5 linked regions of the Homo sapiens genome follow. The protein of the gene in region 5 purifies or fractionates together with the protein of the main gene of each other region. This does not show direct contact. Each region holds a gene or a part of one and is shown on either strand. Other genes may lie near its edges. The genes, in order: WDR70, ATAD3C, C12orf43, UTP25 and PLCD4.

Evidence for each region.
Region 1: the proteins of PLCD4 (region 5) and WDR70 purify together in Homo sapiens (affinity purification with mass spectrometry; one large-scale study listed by BioGRID and IntAct). This does not show direct contact.
Region 2: the proteins of PLCD4 (region 5) and ATAD3C purify together in Homo sapiens (affinity purification with mass spectrometry; one large-scale study listed by BioGRID and IntAct). This does not show direct contact.
Region 3: the proteins of PLCD4 (region 5) and C12orf43 purify together in Homo sapiens (affinity purification with mass spectrometry; one large-scale study listed by BioGRID and IntAct). This does not show direct contact.
Region 4: the proteins of PLCD4 (region 5) and UTP25 purify together in Homo sapiens (affinity purification with mass spectrometry; one large-scale study listed by BioGRID and IntAct). This does not show direct contact.

What each region holds. Positions count from the first base shown.
Region 1 is NC_000005.10:37,720,842-37,727,017, reverse strand, and holds part of WDR70 (WD repeat-containing protein 70), read right to left. Parts: intron 5,904-6,176; coding exon 5,803-5,903; intron 4,164-5,802; coding exon 4,084-4,163; intron 2,085-4,083; coding exon 1,968-2,084; intron 136-1,967; coding exon 1-135.
Region 2 is NC_000001.11:1,462,041-1,468,216, reverse strand, and holds part of ATAD3C (ATPase family AAA domain-containing protein 3C), read right to left. Parts: intron 5,618-6,176; coding exon 5,509-5,617; intron 1-5,508.
Region 3 is NC_000012.12:121,001,473-121,007,399, forward strand, and holds part of C12orf43 (protein CUSTOS), read right to left. Parts: intron 4,923-5,927; coding exon 4,849-4,922; intron 3,622-4,848; coding exon 3,531-3,621; intron 3,021-3,530; coding exon of another isoform or gene 3,018-3,020; coding exon 2,681-3,017; 3' UTR 1-2,680. UniProt on the Homo sapiens protein: Plays a role in the regulation of Wnt signaling pathway during early development.
Region 4 is NC_000001.11:209,850,294-209,856,016, reverse strand, and holds part of UTP25 (U3 small nucleolar RNA-associated protein 25 homolog), read right to left. Parts: intron 4,814-5,723; coding exon 4,570-4,813; 3' UTR 1-4,569. UniProt on the Homo sapiens protein: Component of the ribosomal small subunit processome for the biogenesis of ribosomes, functions in pre-ribosomal RNA (pre-rRNA) processing. Essential for embryonic development in part through the regulation of p53 pathway.
Region 5 is NC_000002.12:218,623,354-218,629,529, reverse strand, and holds part of PLCD4 (1-phosphatidylinositol 4,5-bisphosphate phosphodiesterase delta-4), read right to left. Parts: intron 1,502-6,176; coding exon 1,300-1,501; intron 12-1,299; coding exon 1-11. UniProt on the Homo sapiens protein: Hydrolyzes the phosphatidylinositol 4,5-bisphosphate (PIP2) to generate 2 second messenger molecules diacylglycerol (DAG) and inositol 1,4,5-trisphosphate (IP3).

The sequences.
Region 1 (6,176 bases), on a different chromosome or scaffold from region 5:
GGCTGTCTTCTGCTGCTTTGGCATGACGCAAAATGGCTTCCCGAGGATTACTGTCATCGGTCTTGTCCAAAGCAATGTTCTTCACAATATAGGAAGAGAGAGTGCCCCCGTGGGTTCCAACTCGGCCACCACGACCTATTGCAAAAGAAAAAAAACCAAATTAGAAACTGAATGAGCATGAGGATACATAGGTATATCTGTGTACACTGTACTTATCTGAGCACAAATCTCAAGAGTACTTAAATTTCATCCTTTCAGCTTAGATTTATGACAATCAGAACCAAAGAGATCACCAAACCTCAACTTCCCGATAGCACTTTTAAATAGGAAGAGATTTTTTTGTTATGTCTCAGTTGCTTAACTTACAGAATGATACCAATATAGAAAAAATTACAGATAGTTTGCCATCTATATGCTTTAAAAAGTTCCTCTGGCATCAACATTTAGAATTCAATTAATAAAAATAAACAATATTCATTAGATGCTATTTAAATAAACATATCTTAGGGCTTGGCATCTTCCAAGTCCCTTACAGGTACTTTGCTGAGTATTATAAGAGAAAACAAATAAGCTAAACATACTGATTCATGTTGCTCTGCTGTACTATAATCTCCCTATGAAATAGGAACCTCTTTAAGGGCAGGGATTTGTTCCCCACTAGATCTCTAGCAGCTAGTATAGTGACTGGTACTCAGAAAGATGTAGGACTTCTTAGGAAGATAAAATAAACATATGAAAAGCCAAATAACACTAAAAGATTAATTTCATAAATCAAGATAAGAAGAAACTAAATAAGGCAGGAAATAATTAACTGTGAGATAATTTGTATGGCCAGTAACTATTATGGCACTTAGAGGAAGATAGCACTTCAGGCTCAGGTGGTTGAACAGGTCTTTATGAAAGAGATGGATCCAATTTGTGAAAGCTTAGGAGGTAAAGAAGGTTATTTTCAATAAGCAGAATGGGTTAAGTACAAAAATGCAGAAAGAAGAAAGTTCAATGGGTATTTGGGGACAGGATTGAACCAACAGTAATCTCAAAAGATCAGAGCAGGAAAGAAGTAAGGTGTAAAGCTACAGGGGTAGATTTGATTTGGACTGTACAGAACCTTGAATCTCTGGAAAGACAATTGGACAGTGGGAAGCTTATGAAGGTTTGGAGGCTGTAGCAACATGAAAAGCTAATGGAGTTAGGGATTAAAGCTGTGTATAAGACAAATAGAAGTGAGGTGGGAGAAAGGGAGTGACTTGAGACTAAGGTGCATAGTTAGAAGGGTTCACAATAATCCAAGAAAAAATCTTTTTTGGAAACTTTAGTTAGGACGGTGTTAGAAAAAAATGAAAAAAATAATTAAGATAGATATGCAAAATGTTTTCTATGCTGAAGGAGCAGACCAAATAGAAACTACACAGATGATAACAGAAAATGAAATTCTAGTCAAGGTACGTGCTATACTATTAGCCAGTGCTGCTTGGCTTTCTTCTGGTACCTACTTCTCAAAAACTCTAAAGACTTTTATTCATCTTCTAGTGATATCAACACAAATCTAAATGATGGCCACATTCTGCCTTGTGTGAAACCTAATCCAGCCTGGATTCTGGTCAAAGTGCCCAGTGTTGTACATTAAGCCAATATTGAGAGCAGTGGTTTTAACACTGGGTTCCAAGGTCCACTGAGCCCCCGAGTTCCCCTGAGGCCAGCTAGGAAAACTCTAGTTGGAGACCAAGCAGAAAGGGCCCCAGTCTTCCTCCCTATTTCAGTATAGAAGCTCAATTTTTATCAGCTTTATACATCTGGATTCTGCATCAGCTTTTCTGTTACTAAAAAGAAAACATTTTTAAAACACTAGTAAAATCTCTCTGAAGACAAAGAAGCATCCAGGCCCAAAAGACCTTCCCAATTTTATATCAATTACCCCACCCTGCCTCTGAACCCCCTCTGCAGGTCACTAGCTGGATCACAGTCACCTGGGCCTGCTACAGGAGGTTCAGGTTTATGCGACTTCAGGGGATCCAGTCTGTCCTTCTCCAGCTGTTTCCTTGTACTCCGTTGGCGGGGCTCACGGAACATAGGCAAGGCATGAGCTACAAGAAGTCACATTTGAAAAATTTCATTATAACAATAACCTTCCCATCCAAAAACATAGTTAAAGCATGACTAACTGAAAGATGAAATGGAAGTCATAATGACAGTCTTGATCTGATAATAAAAGACAGTCTTACTGTAACCAATTAGCCAATTTTGCTTGAGACCAGACTCACTGGTCACCTCTCCTGGCAGCTAACAGCACTCAGGAAATACTGTCAAATATTGTCATGGAAACATCGGTGAGGCTCCCCATCTCCCAAACCATGGGTAGCAGTTAAAACTTAATTACCGTGGTTTTGAAAAGAAACACATATTGGGACTGCCTCTTATTTTTTCTTACAGGACCCAAATGTGAATAATGCCAACAGCTTGCTGTCAGCCCTGAAGTTTCCTCAGATGTCTCATAAACACTGGAATCACTTCACACGTTTCTGAAATGTGACCACCTCTCAGGAGGAGTTGACAACACTGAGTAACCGGAAGGGAGGAACACTTATCCCACTGAAACTGGGATAAAGGTTGCCATGAATGCAAGAGGTGCCTAAATCTCTTGGCATGGGGACTTAATGGGGCCTTATCCCTCCTGCTATATGGTAGCAAAATAAGAAAATAAAAACCAAAGTAATATGCGTTCAATTGCTGTTACTGTTTACTCAATGTCAAAATTAAATTTCAGAATATAAAAGATTATAAGAATTTAAAAAGGAAAACAGTATAATATTCTAGGGGAAAAGGAAAGAGTTATTAGGGGAAGTATTAAATAACTCCCTTTTTTTGCCCCAGAAAAGTACTAGCAGTTTCTTTTGACTCTTACGTGCAGATTAAACCCCCTTTAAAAGAAACTTTTCCCGGGGGACCAGGGGAAGGAAGGGAAAGGTTAAAGGGAATTTATAATATCAATAAAATGTCTATAACACCTCAAAACCTCTTCCAGTATCCCCTCCTACCTTCTACCTATACTGCCAACTGAGGCCAGACCATATCACTCACCAGTAAAACATGCCTGCCTTGAGTCAGGGGAGCTGAGAAACATAGCCACCCGTCACTCAGTTGGGCAACACAACACAACAGTATTTTTAGGAGGGGGAAAATAGCTTTTCACTTCAAACGACTGGAGGAATTTAAGTAGGCCGCATGTAATTACATGAGCTAGACTAGTTATGACACTGACTTTAACACTTCTACTCTTGCAAAAAGTGTCATGGGATCTCTTTACTGGTCATAAGCTCCAAGGGACTTGGTCTCATATGAGACCCACCACCAGTGAGAAAACCCAGCAGTACAGCGCCCCCTGGGCTCCAGACTGAGTCACTGATAAAGTCCACAGGGCCATCCACTAATGATAATCGCTGTAGCATCCATTATTTCTTTCCTAGCTGTCACCTGTTGCAGGTTTGAGATTGTGGCTCTGGGAACACACATCTGCCAGATTAATGAGGTTGTGTGACATACGTGAGAGAAACCACTCTGCCCTAGTAAGCTTTCTACTCATACCCCAGGTAGTTAATTTTATATACAAATTCCTGTGGATCAGTCTAGCACATGGTCATAGAATTTCAGAGAAAGCTGGAAGAGACCCTTCCTCTGGTCGCCACACTTCCCTGATTAAAAGTTAAGTTGTTCAACATCACATTGCCACTCAGTGGTGGAACTGGACAAACCCAGGCCTCCTGATTCCAAGACCAGCACTCTTTCTTGTTCACACTTGGAATAGACTGTTACTCTTGAAAAAACTGCTATAAAGTAATGTATTGGACTCGAACAGGCTTTTCCCTTTTGGGTTGAAAGCTGCATGAAATAACCCTGTCCCTGTGATGAGTCACAGAAGCCACAGAGGTTAGCTGTTACATGACTCGTAGTCCTATCCACATGAATGGGCAATTTTGTAATATATGCCTGAATTCTGAGGGCTTTCTCTGTCTCTAAAGCTATGCAATCAAAACCACATGAGAGTAGAAGAGAGATGCATGATTGAGAGGCATGTTAACGACTTACGGGTGATGATGTAGTCCTGAGTTAGAGTCTCAGCTTGTTTTGCCTTCCGCTGGGTTTTAACCACACATAATTTTGCTCCCCTAACGGGTGTAAAAGCAAATTATTTTCTTTACTTGGTCTTAGAAACAGAAAATTTCATGTTGAAAACATGAGATACTTTCAGGAACATACTCTGTGCATGCACTCCATCTACACAAGTACTTGACTTTCTGAGGGATGGCAACAGATGGGCTCTCAGTGATAAAAGCTTAAACTTATGGAAAAGCAAGTCTGTCAGTCAGTGGTTATTAACAAGCAAGAGGGTTGGAGAGGTAACAGGGCAACAGGACACAAGTTTACAAAACCTATAGGAATAATGTGAAATTTTAAGATCTTAAATAATAAAATTACCCAACCTTTTCACTCTAAAGGTCACAGGGTTAAAATTTTAGTTTATGTCTCAGACTAAAGCAACCTGGGTGGTCTACACCCCAAATGGCATATGTCCACTTTTCAAATACAAGAGTACAAGTGTCTGGAACTGAGTTGGCTTGGCAGTGTTGCCGAGGGGCTATGGCCCAAGAATGTGTGGGATTAACCAAAAATGTGCTTAGAACATTGCACTTCTCCTTAGTAGTACAGAGTTATCCTTTTCAAGAGAAGCAAATACAAATAAGTAAATTTCTTAAAGCAAAGCTTCCACAGAAAGTGCCTTCTAAATGGGTGCTATCAAATGAGGCTCATCATTTTCTCAAGTGAAACAGACTCCCATCCTAAGTACATTAGCATTTTTAATTTCTTTTTTAAAAAACAAATAAAATCCTATTTGTTTTCAAATACCATAAATATACTTTATTGTATAAGGCCAGGATTCCAACTCTAGTCCAGGAAGCTCTGAAGGAAGATGGGGCTGTCTGCTTCTATTCAGAGCAAAATTATGGCCAATGAATATTCATTAATAGAGGCTGGCTTTCCTTTCCTCAAAGGATGTGGGACCTTAAAACAGGTTTATATGGGACCCCAGTAAATTTCACATGTGAATTTTAATGCTAGTTAACCAAGTCTTACTCTAAAGAAAGCTTATCAGTCACTGTACTTTAAGAGAGAGAAACAAAACCATCTTTTCTGGGTGATGACACATATCCATCTTTGTGCCTAAGCAAAACGGAAATAACTGAGGAAATGACTGAACCTCTAGTTACGTTTTCAGACTTTTGAAATACAGTGGTATGCTTAAGTTTGAAACTTGGGTGGGCATGGGGGTGGAGGGGAAACGTATCTGTGCTGTCCCTTTCTGCGGACAGAGAATAATCTTGCCAAACATCCAAACTGCTAGAAGCCAAAAAAGAAAGAAGCAAAATGGACAAGCTGATTCCATTTCCTGTAAGTGGTTAGTTCCCTGCTTTGTTAAATCTCTTACATGTATCACTGCTAATGCCTCTGTCCAGGGTGGTATGCAAAGTGGGCAGAACGTTTTTCCCCCTTGCACTCAACATTTCAGCTAAACAACTGCAAATTCCCAGGAAACTTTCGCTTTGAATTCAGTGTGGATCAAGGGCAATATTCAAATCCTTTTTAAAGCACAATACCAGGAGTTTGAGGCTTTACTTTGTTCCAGCTGCATTTTCTAAATGGGTGGATCTCCATCAAAGTGGGAAATAAATAAAAGCGGGGGTGGGAGGGAAATCCCTCCCCCCAGTTGTTGTCATCCATCTAAAACAGGCAATACTTATGAAATACCTCTGACTCTTGTTGGGGTCGTAATAGACTTTAGCCAATCCATTTCCAGTTCCAACCATGATCTGGTTCAGCTTTGGATGCCACAGGCAGCGAACAACACTCTGCAAAGGAAAAGCGCAGTGGTTGACTAAAGAGGCCAGATAAAAATGGAAACAATCCTGCTGGTACTTTGATGGCTAGTCTACTATATCAAATATCATCCTGATGGTTTACCTCTAACTTTCAGACATTTTCTTTTAAACCATAAAGTTGTGTTCCTGAAGTAAAATTCCATTCCATCACTTATTATCTGGGTGATACTCCATAAAAATAAAAAAGATGTTCTCTTCCTGACATTATCTCCCTTTCTGGACAGCCCTGAAACCACAAAATTA
Region 2 (6,176 bases), on a different chromosome or scaffold from region 5:
CGGGGGCAGCCCCTGCAGTGCCCACAGCCCTGCCTGCGTCCTCAGCACCAATGTTGCTCAATGACTTTCTAATAGAAAGCCCAAGGCGGAGCCTCACTGACGGCCGACCCAGGGCAGCTTCCCAGAGGCAGGTGGGAACTGCAGACCCTCTGCGTGTCTCAGCCGTGGTCAGGCAGTGCCCCCGGGTCATAGTGCACCTCAGACCCTCAGACCCTGACCCTCACAGGCCTCCAGGGCAGAGGCAGCCACTGCCCACCTTGAGGCACGTGGCTGGTGGCACCAAGGCCACCTCTGCCCCCACCTCCCTGTCCTCCTGGGCACAGGGCTTGGCATCTAGCATGTGAAGGCTGGAGCTGCTGGGGCTGTGGCCCTTGGTGTGGCTTCAGGCAGCCTCAGGTCCAGCCCTTCTGCCATGGACAGGTCACTCTCCATCCCAATGCCAGCAAAGGGCATGGAGTCCCCAAGGGGAGGCACCCATGGGTCAGGGTGAGGGTGTGGGGACCCCCACTGGGCGCCATGCTCAAGAGCGCACCAGGACGCCTGGAGGAAGCACAGGGCAGGGGACCCTTCCCGGACAGCTGAGCGGGTCCCTAGCCCCATCCCAGCTATGCCTCCCAGAGGCAGGATTCATCTCACGGGGTGCAGGGGCAGCAGCACACCATCCTCCCACAACACCGTCACCACGATAGAACCTGCCATGGGGATGACCACGTGGTGCCCGTCCCCTCTGCCAGCGCCCATCCCTCACCAAGAGCCACTGTGTGGGGAGACACTGACCGGAGCCGGACCACCACTGTGGGTCGGGGGCCCGGGAGCGCAGGAGACACTGACCGGAGCCGGACCGCCACTGTGGCTCAGGGGCCCAGGACTGCTCAACATCATTTTTGGTCTTGAGCCCACCCAAGAGAGGGCAAACAGGTGCAGGGACCCTCAGGGTCCACCCGAGTGGCTGCACCTCACCCAGGGCCCAGCAGAGGAAAGGGGGTGAGCAGATGCTCACGGAGCCACCCCTCCAGGAAGCACGGGACCTGGCAGGAGCCCACCAGAAGTGACAGCTAAATGTCACGTGGCCTCCTGGGTGGGATTCTGGGGCAAAACCTGGTCGCGGGTGGGTCCAACAGTGACACATGATGTTCACCACGTGGCAAGGTCCCAGGCCCAGGAAGTCTCTGTGCTACTCTTGCAACTTTTCTGGGAACCTAAAATCTTCAAACTATAAAAGTTGAAAGACAAGACCTGGACCTGATGTCTTCACATGTGAATTCACAAAACATTAAGAAGAATCAGTACCACTCCTCAAACTCTTGGACAAATTGAAGAACATTTCCTCACTCATCCTAAGAGGCCAGCATTACCCTCATATCAAAGCCAAAGACACCACAAGAAAAATGACATGCCAATATCCCTGATGAGCATCGTTGGAAAAGTCGTCAAGAAAATGCCAGCAAAACGAATTCAGGAGTATAATAAAAGGATTCCACACCCTGACCAAGCAGGATTTATTCCTGGAATGCAAGGACAGTTCAACATATGAAAATCAATCAATGTTCCACATACAAAATGTTCAACATACAAAAATCAGTCAATATTAGCAGAGTGGAGGAAGGAAACCACATGACCCTCTCAACTGTTGCAGGAAAAACATTTGGCCAAATACAATTTTTTTTTTTTTTTTTTTTTTGAGATGACATCTCCTTCTGTCACCCAGGCATCTCGGCTCACTGCAACCTCCACCTCCCGGGTTCACGCCATTCTCTTGCCTCAGCCACCTGAGTAGCTGGGACTACAGGCACCCGCCACCACACCCAGCTAATTTTTTATATTTTTTAGTAGAGACAGGGTTTCACCATGTTAGCCAGGCCAGGATGGTCTCAGTCTCCTGACCTCATGACCCACCCGCCTCAGCCTCCCAATATGCTGGGATTACAGGCGTGAGCCACCGCGCCCAGCCATTTTTTTTTTTTTTTTTTTTTTGAGACAGAAGTTTGCTCTTCTTGCCCAGGCTGGGGTGCAATGGCAGGATCTCGGCTCACCGCAACCTCTGCTTGCCGCATTCATGCGATTCTCCTGCCTCAGCTTCCCAAGTAGCTGGGATTATGGGTATGCACCACCACGCCCAACTAATTTTGTATTTTTAGTAGAGTCGGGGTTTCTCCATGTTGGTCAGGCTGGCCTCGAACTGCCGACCTCAGGTGATCCACCCACCTCACACTTTTATGATAAAAACACTCACCAAACCAAGAATTGAAGGACACGCCCTAAACACAATGAAGACCATATATCACAAGCCCACAGGTGACATACTCAGTGGTGAAAAACTGGCAGCTTTTCCTCTGAGTAAGGAACCAGGCAAGAATGCTTTACTGCTTCTATTCCACATACCACTGGAAGTTGTGGCCAGGGCCATTAGACAAGAAAAAGAAAAGTCATCCAAACTGAAAAGGGAGAGGTAAAATCACCTGTTCTCAGATGATATAATCTTATATGTAGAAAATCCTAGAATCCATATTGGAAAAAACAACCCTGTGACATCAGCAAAGTTACAGGATACAAAATCAACAGCAAAAACAGCTGCAATTCTACATACTAACAATGAATAATCTTTTTTTTTTTTTTTTTTTTTTTTTAAAGACAGTCTTGCTCTGTCGCCCAGGCTGGAGTGCAGTGGCACGATCTCGGCTCACTGCAAGCTCCGCCTCCAGGATTCACCCCATTCTCCTGCCTCAGCCTCCCGAGTAGCTGGGACTACAGGCACCTGCCGCCACGCCCGGCTAATTTTTTGTATTTTTAGCAGAGATGGGGTTTCACCATGTTAGCCAGGATGGTCTCAATCTCCTGACCTTGTGATCCACCCACCTCAGCCTCCCAAAGTGCTGGGATTAAAGGCATGAGCCACCGCGCCTGGCCCACAATGAATAATCTGAAAGGGAAATTATGAAACCATTTCCATTTACAATAGCATCCGAAAGAATAAAATACTTTGAAATTCACTTGACCGAGAAGGTGAAAGACTTGCACAGTGAAAACTGACCGGGCTCCGTGGCCCACACCTGAATGAATCCCAGCACTTTGGGAGGCTGAGGCGGGCAGATCACCTCATGTCAGGAGACCGAGACCAGCCTGGCCAACATGGTGAAACCCCGTCTCTACTAAAAATACAAAAATTAGCCGGGCATGTTGGCGCGTGCCTGTAATCCCAGCTACTCAGGAGGCTGAGTCAGGAGAATCACTTTAACCCGGGAGGCGGAGGTTGCAGTGAGTTAAGATCGCAACACTGCACTCCAGCCTGGGCGACAGAGCGAGACTCAGTCTCAAAAAGACAAAAAGAGAAAACCACACAATATTGCTGAGAGACATCAAAGCAACATAGAGACTAAATGCAATCCCTGTGAAAACCTCAATTATGTTTTACAAAAATAGGAAAACCATTCCTAAAATTCATATGGAATCTCAAGGGATCCTGAATAGCCCAGACTGGAGTTCAATGGCACCATCTCAGCTCACTGGAACCTCCGCCTCCAGGGTTCAAGTGATTCTCATGCCTCAGCCTCCTGAGTAGCTGGGATTACAGTCACACACCACCACGCCCAGCTAAGTTTCGTATTTTTAGTAGAGACGGGGTTTCACCATGTTGGCCAGGCTGGTCTTGAACTCCTGACCTCAGGCAATCCACCCACCTCAGCTTCCCAAAGTGCTGGGATTACAGGCGTGAGCCACCGTGCCCGGCACAAAAAGAAAAAAACTCTTGAAGGACAAAGTTGGTGCTGGGCGTGTTGGCTCACCACCACCGCTGTGAGCAGTGCAGGATGAGTGTCCTTATAAGGGACACCAGAGAGAGCTGAGTTGCTCTCTCTGCCACATGAGGACCCAGCAAAGAACACTCCACAGGGAGGGACCGAGCTGGCACCCTGACCTTGGGCCTGTAGCCTTCAGAGCTGTGGGCACACACGCCCCAGTGGTTATGGCAGGCCCAGCAGTCGACCACACTCCTGTTCTTTTTTTTTTTTTTTTTGAGACAGTCTCACTCTGTTGCTCAGGCTGAAGTACAGTGGCACGATCTCGGCTCACCACAACCTCCACCTCCTGGGTTCAAGCGATTCTCCTGCCTCAGCCTCCCGAGTAGCTGAGAATACAGGCATGCACCACCACCATGCCCGACCAATTTTTGTATTTTTAGTAGAGGTGGAGTTCGACATGTTGGCCAGGCTGGTCTCGAACTCCTGGCCTCAAGTGATTCTCTCTCCTTGGCCTCCCAGCATGCTGGGATTACAGGCATAAGCCATGACCAAATTATTCTTATTTTTTAAGACAGGGTCTCACTCTGTAACCCAGGCTGGAGTGCAGTGGCACAATCACAGCTCACTGCAGCCTCCGCCTCCTGGACTCAAGTGATCCTCCCACCTCAGCCTCCCAAGCAGCTGGCATCACAGGTATGCACCACTAGGTCTAGCTAATTTTTTTTATTTTTTGTAGAGATGGGTTCTTGACTTGCTTTCCAGGCTGGTCCTGAACTCCTGGTTTCAAATAATCTGGCTGACTTGACCTCCCCAAATGCTGGGAATACAAGCATCAGCCACCACCATGCCCGGCCTCTGCTTTCTTAGTTGTGGAAACAGACCTGGTCCCAAGTGGGGATGGCCTGGAACAGAGACCTCAGCTGACCCAGAAGGACGGGGTTTGAGATCTGGGGTTCTTTGTCACAGCGGCATAACCCAGCCTGTACTGACTAATACAGCTCCCTACATACCCCGGCTCCTACGTTCAAATCAAGGTAGTTGGCTACTTCATTAAGCTGTCACACATAATGTGCTGCTAGATCGAGTGACCAGATTGTCACACAGACTCTGTGGACCCCAGAGGCAGCGATGCCTGTGCATGGCCAGGGTGCCTTCTGCCCCACAGACCTGGTTTTGCTTTTCCAGCAACCCCCAAAGACCAAAGCTTTCTGGATGGCCGTGCCCACACTCCTGTGAGTCCCAGCTCCTTGGCCCTGGGGCAGCCATGGAGCTGCAGGAGGGGTGCCCCTGAGAAACAACTGGCTGTGGGACAATCAGAGGCCACAACTCCCACCCATGTGTCTGGGCCCGTCAAGCAGGACCAAGCCAATGGACTTGGTCCAAGAAACACAACGTCCCTCCACCCCCACCACCAAACTCACAAGGGGCCTGTCCTGATGACCATTCACACTGGGGGGTGCCTGTCTGCCAAGGTGAGCATCAGAAGCCTCCCGCCCCACCTGGCAGAGCCCGGGCTACTAGGAGGCCGCACTGGCTTCCTGACCTGTGACCGTCAGCCACTGACATGGCCCCACCCTTCTTGCTGGAGCAGGTGCACGCTGCTGCGTGGAGTGGCCCAACTGGGGCAGGGGCCCCGTGTCACATCTGTGCACTGAAAACCCCTCAACAGAAGCTCCCACGTGACACCGGTGCTGGGACAGGCCTGGCGCAACCAAGCATCTGCACAGCAGCTGGGCTTCCATCTGGGTGGGTGCACCCGAGCCTGACTCACCTGCCAGGACACGGCCAGCTGTGCGATCTTCCGGCATGACATGCCCTCTGTCAGCCGAGCGATCTCTAAGCACTTCCTCCCGTAGTCAAACTGGGCCAGCTTCAGACGCCTGGGGAAGGAGTTCCCAAGTGGGCCGGCCAAGGCAGCAGCTCCCACACCACGAGGTGGAGGCCGGAAGACAGGCAGCCAGGCGGACACCCATGCCAGATGCCCCCTTGAGAGGGACTCTCTACCTGTGACAGCCAAGTTCCGCCCCCTTCCTGACGCAAGCCAGGCCTGGGCTGAGCAGGAAGGGGGCGGCTGTGGGGCCTGGAGATGGCCGCACCCCTTCCTAACACCAGCCCTGTCCACTCAGCACCCACAGGGCGCATGGCCGTTAAACTGGCAGTGGCAGAGCCCTGAGTTCTAGCAAAAAAGCTTCTGCCTGGAGGCCACAGAAGCCAGGTCATGGTGCCAGAGCTACGAGCAGCCATGGGTGTCGGGGAGCCCAGGGAAGGGGAGGGCATAGGGAAACTGAGACCCGGAAAGCTGGTCTAGCATGGAGCAGGCGGCAGTGGAGGGGTCGGCAGGGGAGAACCAGGCTCTCTTTGGAACAGAGCAGCTTTTGTCGTCACTGGCGACAGCAGGGATTTGGGTCAGGTGCACAGAAGGACTCAGAAACCGGGGCC
Region 3 (5,927 bases), on a different chromosome or scaffold from region 5:
CAGTCTTCTTACTTGGAACTGAAGGGGGCGGCCTATGACTTGGGCACCCCCAGCCTGGGCCTATGGAGAGCCCTGGGACCGCTACACCACTCTGGCAGCCACACTTCTCAGGACACAGGCCTGTGTAGCTGTGACCTGCTGAGCTCTGAGAGGCCCTGGATCAGCGTGGCCTTGTTCTGTCACCAATGTACCCACCGGGCCACTCCTTCCTGCCCCAACTCCTTCCAGCTAGTGACCCACATGCCATTTGTACTGACCCCATCACCTACTCACACAGGCATTTCCTGGGTGGCTACTCTGTGCCAGAGCCTGGGGCTCTAACGCCTGAGCCCAGGGAGGCCGAAGCTAACAGGGAAGGCAGGCAGGGCTCTCCTGGCTTCCCATCCCCAGCGATTCCCTCTCCCAGGCCCCATGACCTCCAGCTTTCCTGTATTTGTTCCCAAGAGCATCATGCCTCTGAGGCCAGCCTGGCCTCCTGCCTCTACTGGGAAGGCTACTTCGGGGCTGGGAAGTCGTCCTTACTCCTGTGGGAGCCTCGCAACCCGTGCCAAGTCCAGGTCCTGGTGGGGCAGCTCCTCTGTCTCGAGCGCCCTGCAGACCCTGCCCTTGTTTGGGGCAGGAGTAGCTGAGCTCACAAGGCAGCAAGGCCCGAGCAGCTGAGCAGGGCCGGGGAACTGGCCAAGCTGAGGTGCCCAGGAGAAGAAAGAGGTGACCCCAGGGCACAGGAGCTACCTGTGTGGACAGGACTAACACTCAGAAGCCTGGGGGCCTGGCTGGCTGAGGGCAGTTCGCAGCCACCCTGAGGAGTCTGAGGTCCTGAGCACTGCCAGGAGGGACAAAGGAGCCTGTGAACCCAGGACAAGCATGGTCCCACATCCCTGGGCCTGCTGCTGAGAACCTGGCCTTCAGTGTACCGCGTCTACCCTGGGATTCAGGAAAAGGCCTGGGGTGACCCGGCACCCCCTGCAGCTTGTAGCCAGCCGGGGCGAGTGGCACGTTTATTTAACTTTTAGTAAAGTCAAGGAGAAATGCGGTGGAAACTTCTTGCTTGTCCACAAATCATTCAGATGGGGTTTGGGCAGGTAGCGGGAGGCTGGGGCAGGCCAGAGGCCTGCGAAGAGGAGACAGGCTCCAGCACCCACGCTCTCACACCCCACATCTCTGCTTTTCTTGCTCTGCTGAGACTCTAATGACAAAGCCAGATTTCATCTTAACCTCAAGCTTCTACTTTTTAAAAAAATTTTGTTTTGGAGACAGGGTCTCACTGTCACCCAGGCTGGACTGCAGTGGCATTATACAGCTCACTGCAGCCTTGAACTCCTGGACTAAAGGGATCCTCCCACCTCAGCCTCACAAGCAGCCTCACAGGCGCTCACTACCATGCCCAACTAATTTTTGTATTCTTTTTTTTATAGAGACGAGGTTTCACCATGTTGCCTAGGCTGGTCTGGAACTCGGCTCAAGTGATCCACCTGCCTCGGCCTCCCAAAGTGCTGGGATTACAGGTGTGAGCCACCATCCCTGGCCATGAGCTTCTACTTCTTTTCTTTTTCTTTTTCTTTTTTTTTTTTTGAGATAGGGTCTTGCTCCATTGCTTAGGCTAGAGTGCAGTGGCGCAATCTCGGCTCACTGCAACCTGCACCTCCTGGGTTCAAGCGATTCTCCCACCTCAGCCTCCTGAGTAGCTGGGATTACGGGCGTGTGTCAACATGCTCAGCTAATTTTTGTATTTTTAGTAGAGATGGGGTCTCGCCATGTTGGCCAGGCTGGTCTCAAACTCCTGGCCTCAATTGATCCACCTCCTTGGCCTCTCAAAATGCTTGGATTACAGGCATGAGCCACTGCACCCGGCCACAAGCTTCTACTTCTTGCAGAATGCCTTTGTCCCATGAAACCTAGTCCACGAGTGCTATGACACTTCCTGAAGTCTTGGGTGGGGTGAACGCACAAATCCTGGGGGTGTAGAGAGGAGGAGGATGTTTACTTAAAATGTCTTAAGGTTCAGCATTGACAGAGAGGCAATATCCAAATCACTCTAAGTTTTGTTTTGGGTCCTCTGACAATTGAGTTTCCATAATCTGGTCGGCTCAGAGACACCATCATGTGTGGTATATTCACAAATGCAGACAAAGAAAATTCTAGAAAGCCAGGGGTGAAAAAGCTCTCCTTTCTCAGACGATTCTGTGAAGTCTATGTGGGCTAAGGAGAGAAGAACAAAAGTTTCTCTGGGCCTTGGCCTCTTGGGGATCCCTTCTCTCATTTTCTAAAAACTGTTTCTCACACCAGGCTAAGGAGGTGGTGGGGAAGGTCTCCCTTCCCCTGCCCACCTCAGACAGTTCTAGGGAGATGGAGGTTTCACCACTTGGCCACTAGTCTCAAATAACTGGAAGGTTCCTTTTTTCCTGAGGTCATGAAATGTTCTGGAACCACAGCGCCCCCGCCAGCCCTCCGTGGGAGCACAGAGGGGCAGGCCTTGATTGGTCTTCTCACCCTACAGCCACTTTTTTGGCCCAACTCTCGAGCAAGCCTTCATCACCATCAGGGTCTCATGGGCAGTCTGGGTTTGCCAGCCCAGTCCTTGAACTTGGAGAGGGAGGTGGGGCTTGGAAATGCCTTGTCCCCAGGGTGGGGGGGACACCTTGTCCTTGGAGCTGGCTGAGCCCTGTGCCCATGGCTGGGTTCAGTTTGCAGGTATAGCTGTAGCACTCTTTGCTGGTGGGAATGGAGAGGTCTCGCTGGCCTTCTTTGCCTTTTTCTTCTTTTTGGTCCCAAGCGACACCTGGTCCCCGTTGAGCTCACCTGACTTCTGCTTCTGGACTGTGGCCATGCTGGTGGGGGTGGTGGCAGCGACAGCCGAGTCGACACTGGCCACCTTCTTGGCTTTCTTTTTCAACTTCCTTTTCTTCTTTGCCTCCTTCTCCACTGTTCCAGGGCTGTGGATGGCTGACTCCTGTAGGATGTCGGACGCCGACACAGCTGCCTCCCGGCACCGCCGCCACTCCTCGTCACTGTCCTCACTGCTGCAACGAGAGGGTACCCTGGGTTAGCTGGAGTCAGGACACAGCCCCAGAGCTGCCTCTCGCTGTCCTCCCTTGGTCCAGGTCACCAGAAGGTGGCCGCAGAGAGAGGCAGGTAGTGAGTTCAGGCTTGGGAGTGAGGCCAACCTGGCTTCCAATACTGGCTTCTGGGCGTAGCAGCCTTGTGACCTCCTTAAGTGACTTAACCTCTCTGACTGTATCATCTCTAAAACGGGGATCTTAACAGAGTCCAGGCCTCCCAGGGATGTCCCAGGAGGCAACTATGATCAAGTGAGGTGTCTGGCCCAAGACAGGTGCTCAAAAGCAGTAAACATCCAAAGCTGCCGCCAAGAGGGCTTTCCCTCCCGCTGAGCTCATGATTTCTCCAGCTGCCTGACAGGGCCACTGCCTTGGCCTGGTCCTGACTGGAGTCTGCTTGGCTATTCCAGGGAACCCACCAAGACAGAAGAGGAGAAAAAAGGAGGGGACGTGAGGAGAGGTGTGAGTTCTCACCTGGAGCTGGAGGGCTGTCGCTTTCGGCGGGGTTGGGGAGACTCTTCCTTCTCACGGCCTCCAGGGACAGATGTGAAGAAAAGGCGGAAACCTAAGATTCAATGGGGCAGAGTCAAACAAAAACAAAACAAAACAAAAAGAAACATAAAAAAATAAAAAATAAAGAAACAAAAAAGAAAAAAATTTTAAAAAGGAAAACGAAAGAAAGAAAAGATAAAGAGAAACAAAAAAAAAATTTTAAGAAGACACAAAATAAAAAAATTTAAAAAAGAAACAATAACAAAAAAACCCAACCAAGCAAACAAACAAAAAAAACAAAGGAGCAGAGTCAGCACCCCCAGATGCCAGCCCCTCCTCCCAGGTGCCAGGTGCTGAAGCTGCCCCGCCTCTGCCCTCAGGAGCTCCTGGTCCAGAGGCAAAGACCCAGGAATCAGTCGTCTAACTACAAAGTGATTCTGCATCTGCCAAGGGTCATGCTGATGCCTGATGGAGCCAGTGGAGGGCGCGCTGGAGCAGGAGCCAGCAGCCACATCAGCTCAGCAAGCCCTCAGAGGCTTCTGGAAGTCAGCACTTGAGCTCCTGACCTAAGGCAGCCTTCAAAGTGGCAAATGTGTTGGTACAGGACAGACGCAGATGGGCGAGGCTGTGGAGGGCAGCAGTAAAGTGCTCCTGCTCAGGGTGACACAGACGAGGCCGCCTCAGGCAAATGACTTCGTTTCTCAGGGCCTCAGTCTCCTTGTCTGTACATGGGGTTCAATCATAATACCTGCCTCACCACAGGGGCTGAGCAGATGAAAGAATGGTGAGGTGGCCCATGCCTGTAACCCCAGTACTTTGGTAGTCTGAGGCGGGAGGATAGCTTGAGGCCAGGAGTTTAAGACCAGCCTGGGCAACATGACAGAACCCTGTCTCTAAAAAAAAATACAAAAATTAGCCAGGTGTGGTGGTGCACGCCTGTAGTCCCAGAACTTTGGAAGGCTAAGGTGGGCAGATGGCTTGAGGCCAGGAGTTCAAGACCAGCCTGGGCAACATAGCGAGATCCTGTCTCTAAAAAACATAAATAATTAGCCAGGGGTGGTGGTGTGTGTCTGTGGTCCCAGCTACTCAGGAAGCTGAGGTGGGAGGACTGCTTGGGTCCGGGAGGTTGAGGCTGCATTGAGCTATAATTGCTCCACTGCACTCCAGCCTAGGTGGCAGAGAGAGTTCCTATCTCAAAAAAAGAAAAAAAAAAAAGAATATACCAAAACTGTTTCGCCCACCTCCAGACACACATTAGGTGCTTAATAAATGATAGCTTCTATTAAGTATAACCACTCACCATCATCCTCCAAAGCGACTTTCTGTACCTTAGCTTTTGCTGGCTCCTTTGCTGCTTCTGAGATGGTAATGAAGCTACAGGGAGACGAGACGGTTGATTTAAGATGAGATTTTTGGATAACGACAAAAACAAAATTCTTTTTCAAGTGGAGGGGATGGGGTATGTGATTGTAAATGCAAAAGCGAAAGCGTGCTGGCCTAGTAAGAGGGCTGATGGTCTGGTTATAACATGCTGACCAGCCTCTGCCACGCGAACTGCAGTGCTTCATTTCTTTAAAGCCCACTTTATTCCAGTAAGTGTTGAAGAAGTTTTAAAGACATAGTAAAACAAGATGAGGCCAGGCATGGTGGCTCACGCCTGTAATCCTAGCACTTTGGGAGGCCAAGGCAGGCAGATCATGAGGCCAGGAGATCGAGACCATTCTGGCTAACACGGTGAAACCCCATCTCTACTAAAAATACAAAAAATTAGCCGGGCATGGTGGCGGGCGCCTGTAGTCCCAGCTACTCGGGAGGCTGAGGCAGGAGAATGGCGTGAACCTGGGAGGCGGAGCTTGCAGTGAACTGAGACTGCGCCACTGCACTCCAGCCTGGGTGACAGAGCAAGACTCCATCTCCAAAAAAAGAAAAGAATTTAACAAAATGAATGCAATTTCAAATAGGACAAAGAGATATAAGGGCAAGAGGAACAGAAAGACCTAGAAGTGTAGTCAGGAAGTCCTATACACTTGTTAGAGAGAGGGCATACATTTTGCTCTGAGCTTCCTAGCAGCAAGCATGAAAAGGGAAATATGACCAATCTAGAAAACTGGTTCAGAGGACAGCTTCTGGAGCAGGGCAGACCTGTTTTTAAATTTTTTTTTTTAATTAAAAGAAATTGGAGATAATTGTAGACATGCAGTAGCAACAAATAATGCAGATGTTCCATAGACCCTCCATCCATTTTCTCGCAATGGTAACATTGTGCCTCGCTATAGTACAACATCACAACTAGGAAATGCAAATTGATCCAATTCATGGACCTCATTCAGACTTCAGAGACCTGGGTTTTGAATCCCGGTTTTGTCACTTATTAGCTAT
Region 4 (5,723 bases), on a different chromosome or scaffold from region 5:
CTGTGAGCCCAGGGCCACCTCTCCTTGCGGAATCAAAACTGGCAGATGAGAGAGGCTGCAGAGGTCAGTGAGGACGAAGGTGGCAGGGCACTGGGGCAGATGTTTCAGTGATGGTGCTCCATGCTCTGTGTCATTCCTTAGGTTGGCAAAAGGTAGACAGCTTTGGCCTTGGCTCAGCTGGGAGAACAGATGGGCAGGAATTCAGCACAACTCCTAAATCAGCCAAGCGGCAGACTGCCTCCTTTCCTTCTCTGGGTCAGCCAAGGCTACAGTTTCCACCTGGTCACAGCCAGCTGCAGAGGCCCAAGACTGAAGCCCATGACAGCTCGGCGAGGAGCACCTAGAAATGTGCCATCCCACACCTGACTGTGAGGGGCCATCAGGAGAACAAGCAAGGGCAGGTGTTTCTTCCAGCAGTGAGGGGACATCTGTACTGAGCTGCCCAGCAGGAGAAAGATTAGATTTCTCTGTGCAAAGCAAACAGCTCCTTATGGCAGTCACATACCTGTCCTCACTCCTTTTGAGCATAGGGCTATACTGAGAAAACCAGTTTGTTTGAAAAAGGCCTGGAGCTCTGTTCTTTCTCATCCCCTTTATCTACCATAGGAATAATGGCAACGTGACCAGAGGTGTAAGGGGAGCCTAGGACCTACTCTGAAATACATGTAATGCAAGTGGAGGCGGCAACTCCCCACATCTGAGGAGGGGAAGGTCCTCACAGAAGGGAAACAGGAACAAAGCAAAAGTAGACAGGAACATGTGTTTAGCTTTAGACACAGGACATAAAATGCAGTTTTGCTGCAGTTCTGGTGAGAGCACGTGGCATAGGAGGAAGACGGCTGAACGTCGCGGGGTTTGCTTGGGAGGAAATGACCAAGCCCAGAGGGAAAGAAGCGTTCCCTCTTTCCCCTTCCAATGCTTACATCAATTTTGGATTATCTGTGTATTTACTCCCCATTCATTGACTCTAATTAAAAGTTGACTGAAATCTGTTTAGAATTCTATGTAGCCAGGCTTTCAGAAAAGCTTTTTAAAATAAGTGTGGAGTAGAAATTTGGTAATGAAGATCACTACCATGCTCCTTTGAGAGAAAAGATGGGAAAGGGACTGGAAGGAGAGGATGGCTAGACGGAGGGAGGGCTAGCTGTGGTGGCCCCACGCTCCTCAGAAGCCGTGCCCTGAAAAGAGCCACTTCTGAGCATTCCACTGACATTACTTTTCCACGAAGCTTTGGGCACCTCAGGCCCCTGCAGTTGGACAATGAGGCTCTTCAGACAACTATAAAGAACTTCCAACTCTTGCTCCCTCACCCCAGGCCTTCTGTAATCTTGAGACCCTAGATCTGCTCACGTGGGCTTGGGAAGGCTGGTCAGATGGCCAATAGGGTCTGGCCCCACCTGCCTTTCCCTTTCCTCCTTCAGCAGCATAGCTCCTTGCCCTCACGAGGGCACAATCAGGGCTGAGAGCCTTCATGAGCCCCCCTTGGTCCTCTGGGGTATGAGGAGTCAGCAGGGACACATTCCCCATCTCCACTAGGACCATCTGTGCTCAATTATAAGCCCTTTGGAAGCAAGCAGAGGGCTGTTTAGCTGCTGCTGGTTCTCTATGATTAGCTTGTTCTTGTTTTTTGAACACTGCACGTGGTGCAGCCAGCTGTGAGAAGCATCCACGATTCAAAGCTTTTTCTCTCTCAAAAAGAAAAGTGCTAAGCTGGTTGTTTTAACTATGGGAAAAGAAAAAACATTTAAAAGTGTTACTTTCTGGGTAAGTTCCTTTCCATACCTTTTAATTCCACTGTTTCCAGGATTGGGACCATCCTTTGTCTATATTTCAGACCCTATATAGGCACTTGCTTGCTGCAAATGAGCCTTGTTAACATCAAGGTAGTGTGTAATTCCAGCTCACGCATCCGTATTTCAGTAGCCTCTCTTCTCGCTTATTGTGTGTTGAGAGAGACCAGATCTTCAAGGCATCCTTTTAATAAAACCATTGCAGAGACTCCACTCTGCAATGCACTAAGGAGCCAGGGCTAACTGCAGAGGCTTACCTTCTTTTCAGGTGCTGAGCCAGGAACAAAGCAACACTACTTTGTTCACACTTGAAATCCTCAGTGTTCTCTGCAGGCAAGAAGCAGTTGGCTGGGTTTGGCTCTATGCCAGCATGAAAATCACTAGGGGTGCTTAATAAAATGGTTATTTCTGGGGCTACATCATGGATTTGAAATCCAGACTCACATGTGAGTGGAGAGCCAGAGAAGCTGGAGATTTGGGAGTCGTGTGAATAGTAATAATGGAAACCACGAGATGAACTACAATTCACAGGCAAAAGAATATGGCAGTAGAAAAAGATGTAGGTAATTGGCCAGGCGTGGCGGCTCAGGCCTGTAACCCCAGCACTTTGGGAGGCTGAGGTGGGCAGATCACTTGAGGTCAAGAGTTTGAGACCAGCCTGGCCAACATGGCAAAACCCCATCTCTACTAAAAATATAAAAAATTAGCTGTGCATGGTGGCATGCGCCTGTAGTCCCAGCTACTTGGGAGGCGGAGGCACGAGAATCGCTTGAACTCGGGAGGCACAGATTGCAGTAAGCCAAGATCATGCCAGTGTACTCCAGCCTGGGCAACAGAGCGAGACTCCATCTCAAAAAAAAAAAAAAAGATCCAGGTAATTACAGTCCCTTCGCCTCACATTTCTGAATGAGGTAAATAAACTCATTTCTTATTCTCATAATATACAGGATCTATGATAAACAGCAGCACAATTACGCCAGTAACCACAGGGCATGCCTATAGATACAAAAAGTTCTTTGTAGCATGGGTTCGGTCGGCTTTTATCTAACTAAATTTTCTGAAATTTAGAAAACCATCTAAATATGGAATAAATGGTTTTACTTACCATGCTGAAGAAAAAGAAGTAAAAATGTCTAAATATTTAGCAGAAATATTACTTCAAAACTGATTTTACTTTTTGTTTTTGCTAAGTAATTTTAAGCGTGCCCAAGGATAAAAAAAATCTGTACCAATCATGGGTTATTACATTGAGGATAATGGGAGCCACTGTCTGAGAAAGGAGTTATCAATATGGAAAGAAAATGAGAAGCAATCCTGTGTTGTTGGACTAGAATTGGAGGTACTGGTGTGAATTCATGGTTTTCAATATATGGATATGAAAGTAAATTTAGATATTAATGTGAAGCAAATTTAGACAACGTGTGTACATATGTGTGTGCATACATGTACACAATTCCCAAGTTCTGACCACTGAGCCTGGGATGAGTGGCACCACAATAGTAAGCACTCCAATCTAACCTTTTATAATAATTTCCTACTAAAAGCAAGCAGGGCTGGAGTAGAGAAACCTGGAATGTCTCATTGTCAAAAAATACAGCAGTGCCCAAGTAGATGGGGGACATGTCAAAAGTACACAGGGGCTAACCTGAAGGTGCTCCCAGCGGCCATATTTGAGACCAGTTACGCATCTAAAGAAATAATGATGTAACAAACCGTAACCCATTGAATAAAAGAAGAAACTACGAGTCCATACTAGGATGAGTTGAATATCTCTTATCTGAAATGCTTGGGACCAGACGTGTTTCGAATTTTTTTGGATTCTGAAATATTCACATTATCCTTATTGGTGGGGCATTCCTAATCACAAACAATACCCTTAATTGTTTACAGGAAATATATACTAAAGTATTTAAAGGTGATAGGCCCACTGGGTTGGCAACTCACTCTCAAATGGTTCAGGTTCTGTACTTGGAATTTTTCTGTTTGAGAATGTTTCAAAATAAAAATGTTTTTAAAAGTGTAATTTCCTTTTTATTTGCATCTGTTTATGACTGAAAAAATGACTAGTTATTATGAAGACACTACTGTTGAAGATGGATATTTTAACATGGAGTTTCAACAAAATTACTTCTTGAGACAGAGCTGATGTGTTTTTTAAATAACGTGATTTTAAGCATATATTTGAACAAAACTAAAACATTTAGTATTATGAATATGAAAAAAGATCAGTAAATCAATGTACTCTTCTAGGCTGAATTAAGGTAGACTATTTAAGGTTTCAAAAAAGTTTGGCTGGGGCAGAATAAGTTTTACAAAACCCATGCCATCCAAAATTAAGATGACATGTAGCAGCAAGAAGTATTCCAATGTCTCATAACCAGTTCTCGCAAGCAATGTGTATTCCTTACTTTAAGGAAGTGTCAAACAAATAGAAAAATCTGGAAGAATTTACTAAGTGTAATAAATTAGAGGTAAATCGTAATAAAAGAATTTATGTCTCACAAAAATATTCACAAGTGGGAGTTTTCTTCTACCAACTTCTCAGAGTCCTTCTAGCCCCCTCTTCACTTCTGAAAGATGGGATTTACCAAAATCTGGTTTACATTTAACTTTTCAGGGACACATGACCTGAAAAGAAAGATGTCAGATAATACTGACATTGCCTCATGCACTTTCTTTGTATCAGTCCTTCTTCTGTAAGTAATCAGAATTGGGTCCAAATGGCATAGAATCAAACATTATGTATCATGCCAAATACCACTTCCTGCCCAACAAAATTTCATTTTTCTCCAGTAATGAAGAGGTGGACATTCTTGTTGGACTGTAGCATCTGTGCCGCCCGCTCCACACCAACCACGGCAGCTAACCTCTGGGCATCATATTTGGAGTAGAGAACAGTGCAGGTCCACGTGGCCTCTTCTCCTCTGTTGGTGGCTCTCAGCATATTACAGATTTCACTGTAAAAGTGTGGATATGTCGGCAGTTCATAGAAAATCAGGTTCCTGATGCCTTTTATTGTATACCTGTCAGAATTGGAAAGAAAGAGCTATGTCAACTTGAGAAACAAGTTCTAGAAAAACTACCTAGGAGTTGTACAGAGGCATAGTTCATGCTTGTTGCTTCCTGCTAATGGAGAAAAACAGTGGCACAAGTAACAGAACAAAAGTTATTCTAACTTGAGGTGGCAACATATTTGAATTCTTTTTATGACAACATATTCGAATTCCTAATATTTGGCTTAAGAAAATGATAAAATAAATACACATTTCTTGATCCTACACTGGGTAGGCTGAGGTATCATGGGAAAGAATAGTAGACCAGGATTTAAAAATCTGTCACAGAAAACTTAAAAAGCAGGCACTTAAAATGGAACATTAGCCTTATTATAATCAGGCAAAAAAGAATGGAGACAAGGTCAGACCCAGTACATAAAATAAGTTGTACAGATTGTAAATACACTCCCATTAGTCTTTTCTTGCCACTCTGGATACATGTTAACTCCATGGCAGACGTCCCAAGTTCATCCATTTACAAAACCCTGCCCAAGGACCCACTAGGCATCATGAGAAAGCAATTAGTTTCAACAGCGTATGCATTTCCATCTCTTTCCCAGCTGCACAGTGCCGCCCTGTGGTGGGGGGTGGTGTACACCCAAGGGACTGACTTGCAGTATGGTTCAGTCAGGCTGACGTCAACCGTTCCCCTGTGGGATTCCATAACAAAAGATTTTATATGTTGACAAGCTTCTGATTTTTCCTGTTAAGTTTCTCTCATACACTGAAGACGTTAGACTCCCTTGGGGATTTTATTTCTTTCACAGAAGGTAAGTTTTCCTTGTCTTTTTCCCTCACAGCTCATCCTGATCTCTCTGGAGACCTTCCTTTCCCAAACCATGACTGTGATCTATTATGTGGTTCACCTTTCAACATCCTT
Region 5 (6,176 bases):
GCTTCAGGGCCCTGAAAGAACCCCATCCCCACCGAGAAATAGGAGAGGTCAATATCTGATCTTCTACCTAGGGACTCTCCCCACTCTGGAGAGAACAGTGCTCACCAGCACTTACCCATCCAGACCCCTTCAAGCTACATCTGCATAGAGCCTTCTCCATCCATGGGGACACTGCTGCAAGCTCACGCTGATCTCTACCCATACTTCAGCCCACCCGACTCACAGTCCTTCCATAGCAATCCATCACACATTGCCTCATGATGCATCTGGTGTTCTGGTTTTACTTATTTATTTATATTTACTTTTATTTTTTTGAGACAGGGTCTAAATCTGTCACCCAGGCTAGAGTGCAGTGGTGTGAACATGGCTCACTGCAGCCTTGACCTCTCAGGCTTAAGCGATCCTCCCACCTCAGCCTCCCGAGTAGCTGGTACTAAAAGCACACATCACCATGCCTGGCTAATTTTTGCATTTTTTGTGGAGACGGGCTCTCACTATGTTGCCCAGCCTGGTCTCGAACTCTTGGGCTCAAGCGATCTCCCTGCCTCGGCCTCCCAAAGTGCTGGAATTACAGGCATAAGCCATTGTGTCCAGTGGTGTTCTGGCTTTATATCCCTATACAACATCCTGGTTATTCAAACTGTCAGTAAATTTACACCTTAATTCCTCAGCTAGACTTCCTAAGGTGGAAACTATATGTTCCACTCATCTTTGTATCCCTTGAAGCTACTAGTTCAGTTGCTGGTAATAGAAAGATATCTTGACTATTCAATCTAATCCATGATTAGTCACAATAAAATCAGAACTGCTTATTAGCTATTGACATATGAATTATCTCTTCACAACAACCCAGACAGAATAGGCACTGTTACCATCCCTGTTTCACAGATGGGGAGACTGAGGTATAGAAGTTAAATACTTAGCCCCAGAGTACCAAGTGAAGGAGCTAGGATATAATTTCAGATGGTCTGACTCCAGAACCTATATTTTTAACTCCTATTCTCTATTGCCTTCCATTTAACAATCTGTTTATTAATTTGTTAAATATAAATCTGTCAGGGCCTCTGAGTTCCAGGAGAGTTTCATAGCTTGTGAAAGAGAAGTTCCATTGACCCATAGGGTTTCATTACCATTCTCCCACCAGTCTTCAATATCTCCTCCAAGTGTCTCTGGTATCCAGGGCTCCTCAGCCCCTAAACCCCCACAACACTGTCCCAATCTGTTAGACACTGACAGCTCCCCTCACTTTTCTACATGGTCCCTCTCATGAGTTGGACCCCTTCTCTACCACCACTGCACCGTATATATCCCTCGACGCTGCTCTGGCCACAAAGCTGGTCCCCCACTAGGTAGGTGTTATGAGAAGAGCAGATGAAGTAGTGGTTCAGGGGTTGAGTCATATCCTGATAGATGGGGAGGCAGGCTGGGTTGAAGATGTCTCCATCCTTAGAGCAGAGGTAGCTGAGGAAGCCATCCATACTCAGCACATGCCGCAGTTTGCCTGGAGTGTGGACAGGGGAACACTAGGTGAGAAGCTCTGAATGGGAGCATCCCAGCACACCTACAGTCCATCCTTCCTCCCACTCCATCCAGAGCCCTGCCTTTCAGATGGCACCCATTCCCAGCCTTTAGATCCCAAACTTGCCCCACCTAGTGTGTATCATTTCAATCATTCCCACCCTCAAAGAATGTTAAAAGGAATCATTAAGATCATTCAAGGCTGGGCGCGGTGCCTCACGCCTGTAATCCCAGTACTTTGGGAGGCTGAGACGGGCAGATCACGAGGTCAGGAGATCGAGACCACCCTGTCTAACACGGTGAAACCCCATCTCTACTAAAAATACAAAAAATTAGCCGGGCACGGTGGTGGGCGCCTGTAGTCCCAGCTACTCGGGAGGCTGAGGCAGGAGAATGGCGTGAACCCGGGAGGCAGAGCTTGCAGTGAGCCCAGATCGCGCCACTGCACTCCAGCCTGGGGGACAGAGTGAGACTCCGTCTCAAAAAAAAAAGTTCATTTGAGTCCAGTGCTATCCAATAGAACTTCCTATGATGAGATAAATGTCTTTTTTTTTTTAACTTTTTTTTGGTCTTTTTTTATGCTATAGTACTAAAGAGAAAAACGTTTTATTCTGCAGTGTCATATATAGTAGCCTCTAGCCACATGTGGCTACTGAGCACTTGAAATGTGGCTTGTGTAACTGAAGAACTAAGTTTTAAATTTTATTAGATTTTAGTTAATTTAATTTAATTTATTTATTTATTTATTTTTGAGACAGAGTCTCACTCCGTCTCCCAGGCTGGAGTGCAGTGGCAGGATCTCTGCTCACTGCAAGCTCCGCCTCCTGGTTTCACGCCATTCTCCTGCCTCAGGCTCCCGAGTAGCTGGGACTACAGGCGCCCCCCACTACACCCGGCTCTTTTTTTTTTTCTTTGTATTTTTAGTAGAGACAGGGTTTCACCGTGTTAGCCAGGATGGTCTCCATCTCCTGACCTCGTGATCCGCCTGCCTTGGCCTCCCAAAGTGCAGGGATTACAGGCGTGAGCCACCGTGCCCGACCTAGTTAATTTAATTTTAAATAGCCAAATGGAGCTCACAGTTACTATAATGGACAACATCCAAAGGGCTAATTTTATAGATGAGGAAACTGAGGCCCAGAGAGAATCAAAGTCAAAGGCTTAGTGACATGGCCAAGTTACCTGTATTTTCTTCCTTGGGCTGTGTACCTGTGACTAACTATGGCCTGAGGGTTTCTTCTTACTGTCCATGTTCCCATATGATGTTTTGAGGATCATTTGTCAACATCTCCTTAGACTACACTCCCATTGAGAAAAGGGCCCTGTTAGTCCTTCCATAGCTCCCTCCAATCTCAGTATGGGCTTTATACAACAACAACAACAATGACTAACAGTTATCAAGCACTCACTCTATGCCCAGGGCATTCCACGCAGCATCTCACTCATGTTCTCAGTAACGTGATGAAGTAGATGTAATATAATCTGCCATGAGAGGTTAGGTAACTTGCTCCAGGTCTCATAATCAGTAACTGTAGAAGCTGGGATTTGAACCCAGGCCGCCAGGTGTCAGAGCCATGCCCTGCACCACTGGGCTGTGCAGTCTCACTGAGAATAATGTTGCTACAAGGAGGCTCGCCTGGAAGGTGGAACAACATGACTCTCATGGCCAGCTTCCTTGCTCCAGGTTTCACAAGGCCTGGAGATTGTGAAGAAGGACAGGAAGTTGGGCAGGAAGTTTCCTTTTTTTTTTTTTTTTGGGAGACAGAGTCTCACTCTGTCACCCAGGCTGGATACAGTGGCACAATCACAACTCACTGCAGCCTTGCCCTCCAGGCTCAAGCAATCCTCTCACCTCAGCCTCTCAAGTAGCTGGGACTACAGGAATGTGCCACCAAGCCTGGTTATTTTTTTTATTTTTTTATTTTTAGAGATGGGGTCTCACTGTGTTGCCCAGGCTGGTCTTGAACTCCTGAACTCAAGCAGTCCTCCTGCCTCACCCTCCCATATTATAGGCATGAGCTACCATACCTGGTGGAAGTTTCATTCTTTTTGTTTGTTTGTTGGTTGGTTGGTTTGTTTTTGAGATGGAGTCTCGCTCTGTCACCCAGATTGGAGTGCTGTGGTTCGATTTCCACTCACTGCAACCTCCGCCTCCCGGGTTCAATCGATTCTCCTGCCTCAGGCACCCAAGTAGCTCAAATTACAGGTGCCCGCCACCATACCCAGCTAATTTTTATATTTTTAGTAGAGAAGGGGTTTCACCATGTTGGCCAGGCTGGTCTCGAACTCCTGAACTTAAGTGATCCGCCTGCCTTGGCCTCCCAAAGTGCTGGGATTACAGGCATGAGCCATTGTGCCCGGCCAGAAAGTTTCATTCTTGACAGTAATAAATCACTCAGGTAAATTTGCAGTTGCCAGATACTTTTCATGTGCATTATTTCATTTTATCAATTATTTTACAAATGAGGAAACTGAGTTAGTTAGGTTAAGTGACTTGCTCACAGTTATCAGTTAATAAGAAACACAGTGGAGACCTGAGCCCAGGTTTTTTGACTGATACTACTCTCTGTAGCCAGATAAAGTATCTGATTGTCAAGTTCAAGGGAAGGAAACACCAAGAGGGGTCGGGGTCGAAACAAATGTAACTGATGTTTACTGGATTCTGCACAGGTAACAAAAGATCCTATTTCTTTTTTCTTTCTTTTTTTTTTGTTTGAAACAGAGTCTTGGACTGATGTTTACTGGATCCTGCACAGGTAACAAAAGATCCTATTTCTCTTTTCTTTCTTGCTTTTTTTTTTTGAAACAGAGTCTTGGACTGATGTTTACTGGATTCTGCACAGGTAACAAAAGATCCTATTTCTTTTTTCTTTCTTTCTTTCTTTTTTTTTTTTTTTTTTGAAACAGAGTCTTGGTCTGTCGCCCAGGCTGGAGTGCAGTGGTGCAATCTCAGCTCACTGCTGCAACCTCTGCCTCCCAGGTTCAAGCAATTCTCCTGTCTCAGCCTCCCGAGTAACTGGGATTACAGGCTCCTGCCACCATACCCGGCTAATTTTTTGTGTTTTTAGTGGAGATGGGGTTTCACCACGTAGGCCAGGCTGTTCTCAAACTCCTGACCTCAGGTGATCCTCCTGCCTCGGCCTCCCAAAGTGCTGGGATTCCAAGCATGAGCCACAGCGCCCGGCCTAGAGATTCTATCTCTTAAACTTTTAACTCTCTTCGATTTCATTTTCTGAAATGATTGCTTTACAACCTCCATTCTTTTTTTTCTTTTCTTTTCTTTTTTTTTTTTTTTGAGACAGAGTCTCACCATGTCACCCAGGCTGGAGTGCAGTGGTGTGATCTCGGCTTACTACAGCCTCCACCTCCCGAGTTCAAGCGATTCTTATGCCTCAGCCTCCTTAAGTAGCTGGAATTACAAGCGTGCACCACCATGCCTGGCTAATTTTTATATTTTTAGTAGAGACAGAGTTTTACCATGTTGGCCAGGTTGGTCTCGAACTCCTGGCCTCAGGTTATCTGCCCGGTCTCCCAAAGTGCTGGGATTACAGGCGTGAGCCACTGCACTCAGCCTACAACCTCTACTCTATTCTGAACACCCAAACAAATCTGAAATAACAGATTGTAATGTTTTCTGTTTGACTCTAAGTTTCATGAGGGCAGTGTCCTTGTCTGATCTAGGCACTAATGTATGTCTGGTGCCTAGCATAGGTCCTGACACATTATAGGAACTCAATAAGCATTCATTGAAGTAGTGAATAAATGAATGAATGAAAGGGAGTAAGAGTTTAGACCCAGAATACCTTGATCACTTGTCCAGCTCTCATTCATCCCATCTCTTATCCTCATTCTCAAGAGAGGCACCAACTAAGAGTCAGATGACCTGGGTTTGAATCTCAGTTCCTCTCTCATTAGCTGTTGACTTTGAGCAAGTCATTGAATCTTTCTAAACCTCAGTTTTCCTCTTTTATACAACTGACTTAATAACAGGACCCATTTCAACAGGTCATTGTATTAGAAAAGGTACGTAGATGCCAGGCACAGTGGCTCATGCCTGTAATCCCAGCACTTTGGGAGGTTGAGGCGGGTGGATCACCTGAGGTCGGGAGTTCGAGACCAGCCTGACCAACATGGTGAAACCCCATCCTCTACTAAAAATACAAAATTAGCCGGGCGTGGTGGCGCATGCCTGTAATCCCAGCTACTCGGGAGGCTAAGGCAGGAGAATTGCTTGAACCCGGGAGGCAGAGGTTGTGGTGGGCCGAGATCGTGCCATTGCACTCCAGTCTGGGCAATAAGAGCAAAACTCTGTCTCAAAAAAACAAAAAAATAGAAAAAGGAAAAGGTACATAGAGATATTAGAGCATTATGGGATATGTAGTAAAGGGCCAATAAAGATTACTGTTGATTTGCAAAGTTGTACTGAGGACTAAATGAAATGAGGAACGTGAAAGTTCCTTGTAAAGTATTTATTATTAATGTAAATTTCTCACACTCCGAAGGGAATGGAGGGCAGGAAATGAGTCTACTGAAGAGGCAAGAGGAAGAAACTTTGAAGAACAAGAGCGTATATTTCAGCTGCACTCCTTAAAAGCTAAATAACTGGCCTCCTTATTCCCCCAGCCAGGGGCTAACTGGCTTTCTGGTTCAGGGGCTTAGAG